Homo sapiens: one gene and its partner. The protein of the gene in region 1 interacts with the protein of each later gene in a biochemical or structural test. Each region holds a gene or a part of one and is shown on either strand. Other genes may lie near its edges.

Evidence for each region.
Region 2: of the proteins of STK39 (region 1) and MBP, one has a biochemical effect on the other in vitro, tested with the Homo sapiens proteins (one study listed by BioGRID).

The regions. Positions count from the first base shown.
Region 1 is NC_000002.12:168,139,298-168,143,130, forward strand, and holds part of STK39 (STE20/SPS1-related proline-alanine-rich protein kinase), read right to left. Parts: intron 1,462-3,833; coding exon 1,352-1,461; intron 1,094-1,351; coding exon 992-1,093; intron 1-991. UniProt on the Homo sapiens protein: Effector serine/threonine-protein kinase component of the WNK-SPAK/OSR1 kinase cascade, which is involved in various processes, such as ion transport, response to hypertonic stress and blood pressure.
Region 2 is NC_000018.10:76,978,160-76,980,718, forward strand, and holds the end of MBP (Golli-MBP), read right to left. Parts: exon of another isoform or gene 2,313-2,559; coding exon 2,268-2,312; 3' UTR 674-2,267; downstream 1-673. UniProt on the Homo sapiens protein: The classic group of MBP isoforms (isoform 4-isoform 14) are with PLP the most abundant protein components of the myelin membrane in the CNS. They have a role in both its formation and stabilization.

The DNA of each region.
Region 1 (3,833 bases):
GGTCACTTCAATTGTTTACGCTTCAATTTTAAATTTTCTGCTAGCAAAATCCGGTATATGTACCCACACACACACAAATACACTAAAATCCTAACTATGTTAAAAAAAATTTATATATATATATATAAAAACAATAAAATGAATTACACTGAAACCTTAGTAGAGATTGTCTGGTTGATGAGATTACGGATGATTGTTTTTCTTCTTTAGTCTGAGTTGCACATCCAAACTTTCTACAATATGAGTATACTACTTCTTTTAATCAGTAAAACTCACTTTTTATTCTTGGGTTTTTAAAATAAATCCTCCCAAATTTTTCCAGTAACCATGAAACAATCATAGACCATACTCTATGTAAAATAGCATTATAATTTCACTAAACTATTTCAGCCTCAAAACAAAATCCAGTTGGGTAAATAAGCCCTGATACCACTATCTCAGAACTAAGAGAAATAATGAGGTATAAACCAGTTAAAAGAAGAGCAGAAACGTGAAAATAGCATCCTAAAAACACTGTGGCTCACTTATATCAGATCAGTTGCCAACATTACACTATAAGAGCAGGGGTAAAAATGTTGTAGTCCACTTAAAAAGAAAGAAAAAAAAAAGCTCTGAAAATCTGGGAAACCCATTTGCAGAGATGACATCACTATAATCTATTTTGAGATATTCTCTGGGAACCTGGCGTTGTTCTGCTATCAAAAGAGTAATGACCAGCATTTGTCATAGCTATCAACCTCCATCAACCAATCTGATAACATTATTTTCTTAACTCTGTGCTGAGACTATAAAGCAAGCTTCAAAGCTGGGAATTATGCTACTTTTGTCCTATTCTGTCCACTGAGAAAATCAGACAATGTTCAACTTGGCTGCGTTCCTCCATTAATTCTCCTCGGGTCTAAGAGAAGAATGAAGATGTTGAAGAGAATTAGAAAACAGATTCCGTCCAATCACATTTCAACCCCGATGTAGTATTTCCAATTGTAATTACTTTCATGGGAGGATATTTGTGATAAGGCGCTGCTCCTGTTGCTAATTCAATGGCAGTTATTCCAAAACTCCACATGTCAGCCTTGAAGTCATAGCCTCTCACCTAAGAAAGAAAGCAGGAAAAAAACACAATCATACAGCAGGCATGTTACACATCATCAAGTCCATGTCATGTCAGAAATCCACAGCTGTTGATGTATAACTTTCACGTTAGTTTGCTAATTAGCTAGCAATTGAGAATTAAATCTTAGTTACATTATGCATTCTACTAAAATGCTAGATACAAATGAAATGTTAGCATATTAATGATCTGTACGATTGTACTATGTCCATCAAAAAGTCACTTTTTTTGTTTTTTTACCTGTTCCATGACTTCAGGAGCCATCCAACATGGGGTGCCAACGAATGTTTTTCTTACTTTATTTCGGGTAACATCACCCCCTGTTGCTAGGAACGCACTTACCCCAAAATCTGAAAGGGAAAAAAAAATCACCTTTATTTTATGTAAGACATTATTGCTTATAAATTGTGATTTTTTGAGCATGTCTCTTCTTTGTGAGCTTTACAGTGGTGATGAACTATTCCAAACATGTCTACGGTGCTCTCTCAGGAAAAAAAAGGAAGACCTGCCCTCTGCTATCCCCTACACCTTGGAGAATACCATCGCTGGTAATGGGCCACAAGCCTGCCGGTCCAAAAGCTTAGCATACCAAATTAAATATAAAGGGTGTTAGCTTTTAGCTGAGGTATATAAAGATAAGATATATAAAGCCAACATGCCCGAGTATGTCCATATGCAAAAAAGCTTAGTCAGCAAAGACTGATTTTCTGGACAATTTTCATAAGTACAGAGGCAATGGATTGTACAAGTAAATAATATTTTTCTTAACTTTAACTCATTATATATAGAAGTTAATTTTATAAGAAGATGAATTAATTAGGCATACTGTACAGATTGAGCATCCGGAAATGCTTGCGACCAGAAATGTTTTAGATTTTGGATTTTTTCTCATTTTAAAATACTTGCATTATATACTAAACTAGTTAAGTACCCCTCATTCGAAAACCAGAAATCTGAAATGTACCCGTGAACATTTCCTTTGAATGTCACCTCACATTCAAAAAGTTTCAGAATTTGGAACATTTGAGATTTCACATATTCTGATTTAGGGATACTCAACCTATATATACATACAGGCACATGTGTAAAAATTCTATTTGTATGTACAGTACAGAAGGGAATGCCTGGCAATTATTAACGTACTATTCTTGCTTTCATTTTTACACAGTGGTTAAAAGTAGTTGATAAGTTAAAGTACCAATTACTCAAGACTAGTGTACCTATCAATGATAGCCAGGTCAAGGACTACTTGATAGCGAGCTGGTGGGTAGTAATAAAAACAGGTAGGCAACACATCAAAACACCACAGCGCAATGTGCAGTCTGAGCCCCTGCAAATCGCTCTCATACGCTTTTCCTTTGCGAGTCCCCCTTGTTGGCTGTCAGGGTGACAGCAATTACCAAAAAACACCCTCAAGTACAAACCAAGGTCAAAATGTATTAGCATTTGCTGTAGGCCTATAAGGTTAGTTTATGCAATTGTAACTTAATAACATTGTAACTGGTTTCCTGAGTAGAAATACATTGAATGTTGCATTTTATTTATATTTAAATTTACTCATACTCCCAACAGGATTTCAACTACAAATAAAAGGAATGAAAATTGACAAATGGAGTCTTTGTTCCAACTGCTACTCTCATGTTCATATTGAATAAAAGTATATATGTTTAAACTGCTAAATAACTTAATATGCATATATGTTTCCAACTCTAAAGCCCTTTTAATTCTTATACTGCAGCCAGAAAACTGAAGTCTTGTGAAAAGAAATCTCTGGAACCAGTCAGTCTCCTGTGGGTGGGAGAAGATACAATTCATTCTCTTAGAGAAGAGTTAGGTGAATTAAAATATTTGTAAGCATCTACTATATCTGCTGGAAAAAATATATATGATAAAACTTTGAAAGCTACTAATTTCAACTTAATTTATATTTCTAAAAAGAAGTTCAACGATGAATCCAACATTTCATTTTTATTAAAATGATTTTATAATATAATATGAAATAAATACATATCATCTATAAATTAAGGATACAGGTAAAAGCTGCTTTAAGGAAAAATTGATTATTTTAAATGCAATTGAAGCAACTCTGCACCCTAAAGTCTCTTCCTAAAAGACATAATCCAGGTAAAAATCCATAGTTAACATTAGATATATTTCCACTTCCTTAAAAATACTACCTGCTTACATTACACATTTTAAAAAGTTAGAAAACAGCCGAAAAAGATGTATAGTAGCCATTTATTATTGACAATACCCTTTCAATATATCTGTAATGATACATACATTCAGAGCCTCCACTTTGAACACTCACTTTAAAGTCATAAACAGATGGCTAAATGTCTTTAAAACTCAGAACAAAAATTTCAGGAGCAGAAAACAACAATCCTAATATCTACTCCCTCTATGACTACAGAAGAAATATACAATTTGCTCCTATGTACGGCTGATGTGTATACAGATTATATGTACTCAGTAACAGAACATTTTGAGCAAAGTACATAGTGTGCTTATGTTATATACACAAAAAATTGGTATATTATATTGAGATAGCTTGCATATGACAGTTAGAACAAGGTGGCAGAACTGTAACAGTGAAAAGCTGTCCTTGTTTCCTAAGGGGTACATCTATACAGCCAAAGGGAATGCAGCCAGATTCACTTGGGTACAAAACCACAGACATTTCTCTAGAAACACAGAATCAAAGGCTACACATAAAGTTAGC
Region 2 (2,559 bases), on another chromosome or scaffold:
GAGGTCAGGATGGGACCAGCCTGGGCAACATGGCGAGATCCCGTCTCTACAAAAAATACAAAAATTTTAGCTGGGTGTGGTGGCGTGTACCTGTAGTCCCAGCTATGTGGAAGGCTTTGGCAGGAGGATAGCTTGAGCCTGGGAGGTTAAGGCTGCAGTGAGCCAAGATTGCAGCACTGCACTCCAACCTGGGTGGCAAAGTAAGATCCTGTCTCAAAAGAAAAAGAAAAAACAAAAGAGACTTTCGTCTATCTTTTTGAAGAAAAATTCTTGTAACCAAAGGTAACTATAAGTAAAACATTGCTTCACGCTCTTTCATGCTTTCAGAGAAAAAGGTGGCAAGGGGAACACGTCCAAGACTCCTGGGTTCACATCTGCAGGGTGTGTACACTAGCCACACAGCAGAACACAGACAGACTTGGAAGCTTGTCTTCAGAGACACTAAATATTTTTTTCCTGGTGAGAGAATCAGTGCCCTAACAACTACCTCTGTTCCACTTTCTTCAGTAGCCATCGACCCTCTGATGAGGATGCCCCCTCCAACAGGCACCGCCAGGCAGCCCTGCCTGGAGACCCAGAGGCACCGAGTCACATTTGCTCTGCACACCTGGCTCTCGCTTGATGTGGGCCTGTGTGCTACAGCCCGGAACACAAAAGAAGACACCCATGCAAATACCATTAAAAGTTTATTGTTTTATTTCAATATTCAGGAACAGTGTACACTTTCCGTTCAGCCATCGTCACAGCACGTGCTGTGTGGGTGCGGCCACGTATGGATCGCAGAGCCGACCTCAGCTCAGCGACGCAGAGTGCTTCTGCTGAAAAATTTGGAGGTTTGTGTCTGGAGTTTTGTTCTTTGTAACTCTCTCATCATCGAGGCTATATATTAATAGACATGGTATTAAGCCCACACGAAACATTCAGAATTAGAATTGGATTAAGAAGACGCGTTTTGGCATCACGCTGACTACTCCTCATCTCCGTCCTCGGGGAGGGTGATGCCAGCGTGGGACTCTTTGGAAGGCCTATCAATCACAGGTGCGCTAAAATCAAAAGGTGGGTCAGTAGGTTAGGGAGGGAGGCGCGAAAGGAGATGCCAGCGGGTGTTAAGAAGGATATGGTCAGAAGAGCTCTTTGTCTCCATCCACGGGGCCGTCTGCTCAGCCCGTGTGTCTCGGTGAGTAATTCGGGAGCAGGTGCACGCCTGTGCCTACTCGCTACCACGCGTCTTCTGGGAGGAAGTGAATGAGCCGGTTATCTTCTCAGGGAGGGTTAGTGCTGGCCACTGTGCACTGCCGCTGCCAGCACGCCCGGTCACAGCCAGTGTCTATGGGCGACTGGCGCGGCTGCGAGGCTGTCTAGAGGACTCCTACCCTTCTGCTCTGAGTGCGCAAGTCTTCCTGGACTCTCCGGCTGTGGGCTGTGGTTTGGAAACGAGGTTGTTCATAGAGGCTGCTCTGGGGCCACCATGCAGGGCAACGGTGACGTCCAGAGGCCACCTGCTTGACATCTCCATCACCAAATCTCCAGGAAGACCCTGTTTCCTATGTGAGGCCATTGCCCAGCCCACGTTTGCCTCCTTTTCCTCCCTCTGCCACACGCGAATTCAGCTAATTGGGGTGTGTGGGCAGCCACGGCCTGGGGAGGTGGCCCCCTCTCTGTGCTGCCCCACGTTGGACTCTAACAGCTGCCCAGCCCGCATGTCACATACCAAAAGCTCCCACATGTAGTAAGCCACTCCTTGACTGTCTAATCCTGTTAGGAAAAATGAAGTCTACTTTAGGAGGTGAGAGAAGGACAGGAAAAAAAAACAAAGGAAGCTTGGATGTCAACAGTCCTCTCTGCCGCCCACGTCCTCTCTGTCTCTGCAGCTGTGTGCCTCCATGGCAGTGACCAGCAAAAGCGCAAGGGTGCCGCAGCCACGGCGAAAAGAAAGTCCAAGGGTGGAGGGGTGAACGTGGAGGGACGTCTGTGCACCTGGCCCCCTGAAGACCCACGTGCGTCTGGGGGCACATTGCGGGGGAAGGAACGTGATCTTCACACAGAAAGGGACAGTTTTAACCGTTTTCTGTTTTCATGTTCTCATTTAACTGTTGGCCGGAAATTGCCGGTAGGCTGCCGTGGCCTGACCCTACTACGTGCACAACTCCGCAGGCATTAGGGGAGGGGTCATCTGCTCTAATTAGGTAACAGGGGCAAGTGGGATTAAAGTTTTAAGGCAGTTATATTAAGAAGCTGAGGACAGGATTCCGGAACCAGGTGGGTTTTCAGCGTCTAGCCATGGGTGATCCAGAGCGACTATCTCTTCCTCCCTGAAAAGGAAGAGAGAGGAGTTAGGACGAGAGTGCCGCAGGGTCCTCCCACACCAGCATCCCCTCTTCTGTGGTCCCGGGTGGATGCTGAGCCATTGGGTGTCTCTCTCATCTGCTAATAGAAATGGCACCCCGGAGAGCTGGTCTTTTCATTCCATTTCTCCCGACCTCCCTCAGCAAATGCTAATTGAATTTCCAGTTCTGTGAGAGAGAACTGGAATCGGATTCCCAGGCCCCAGGGAGTGGT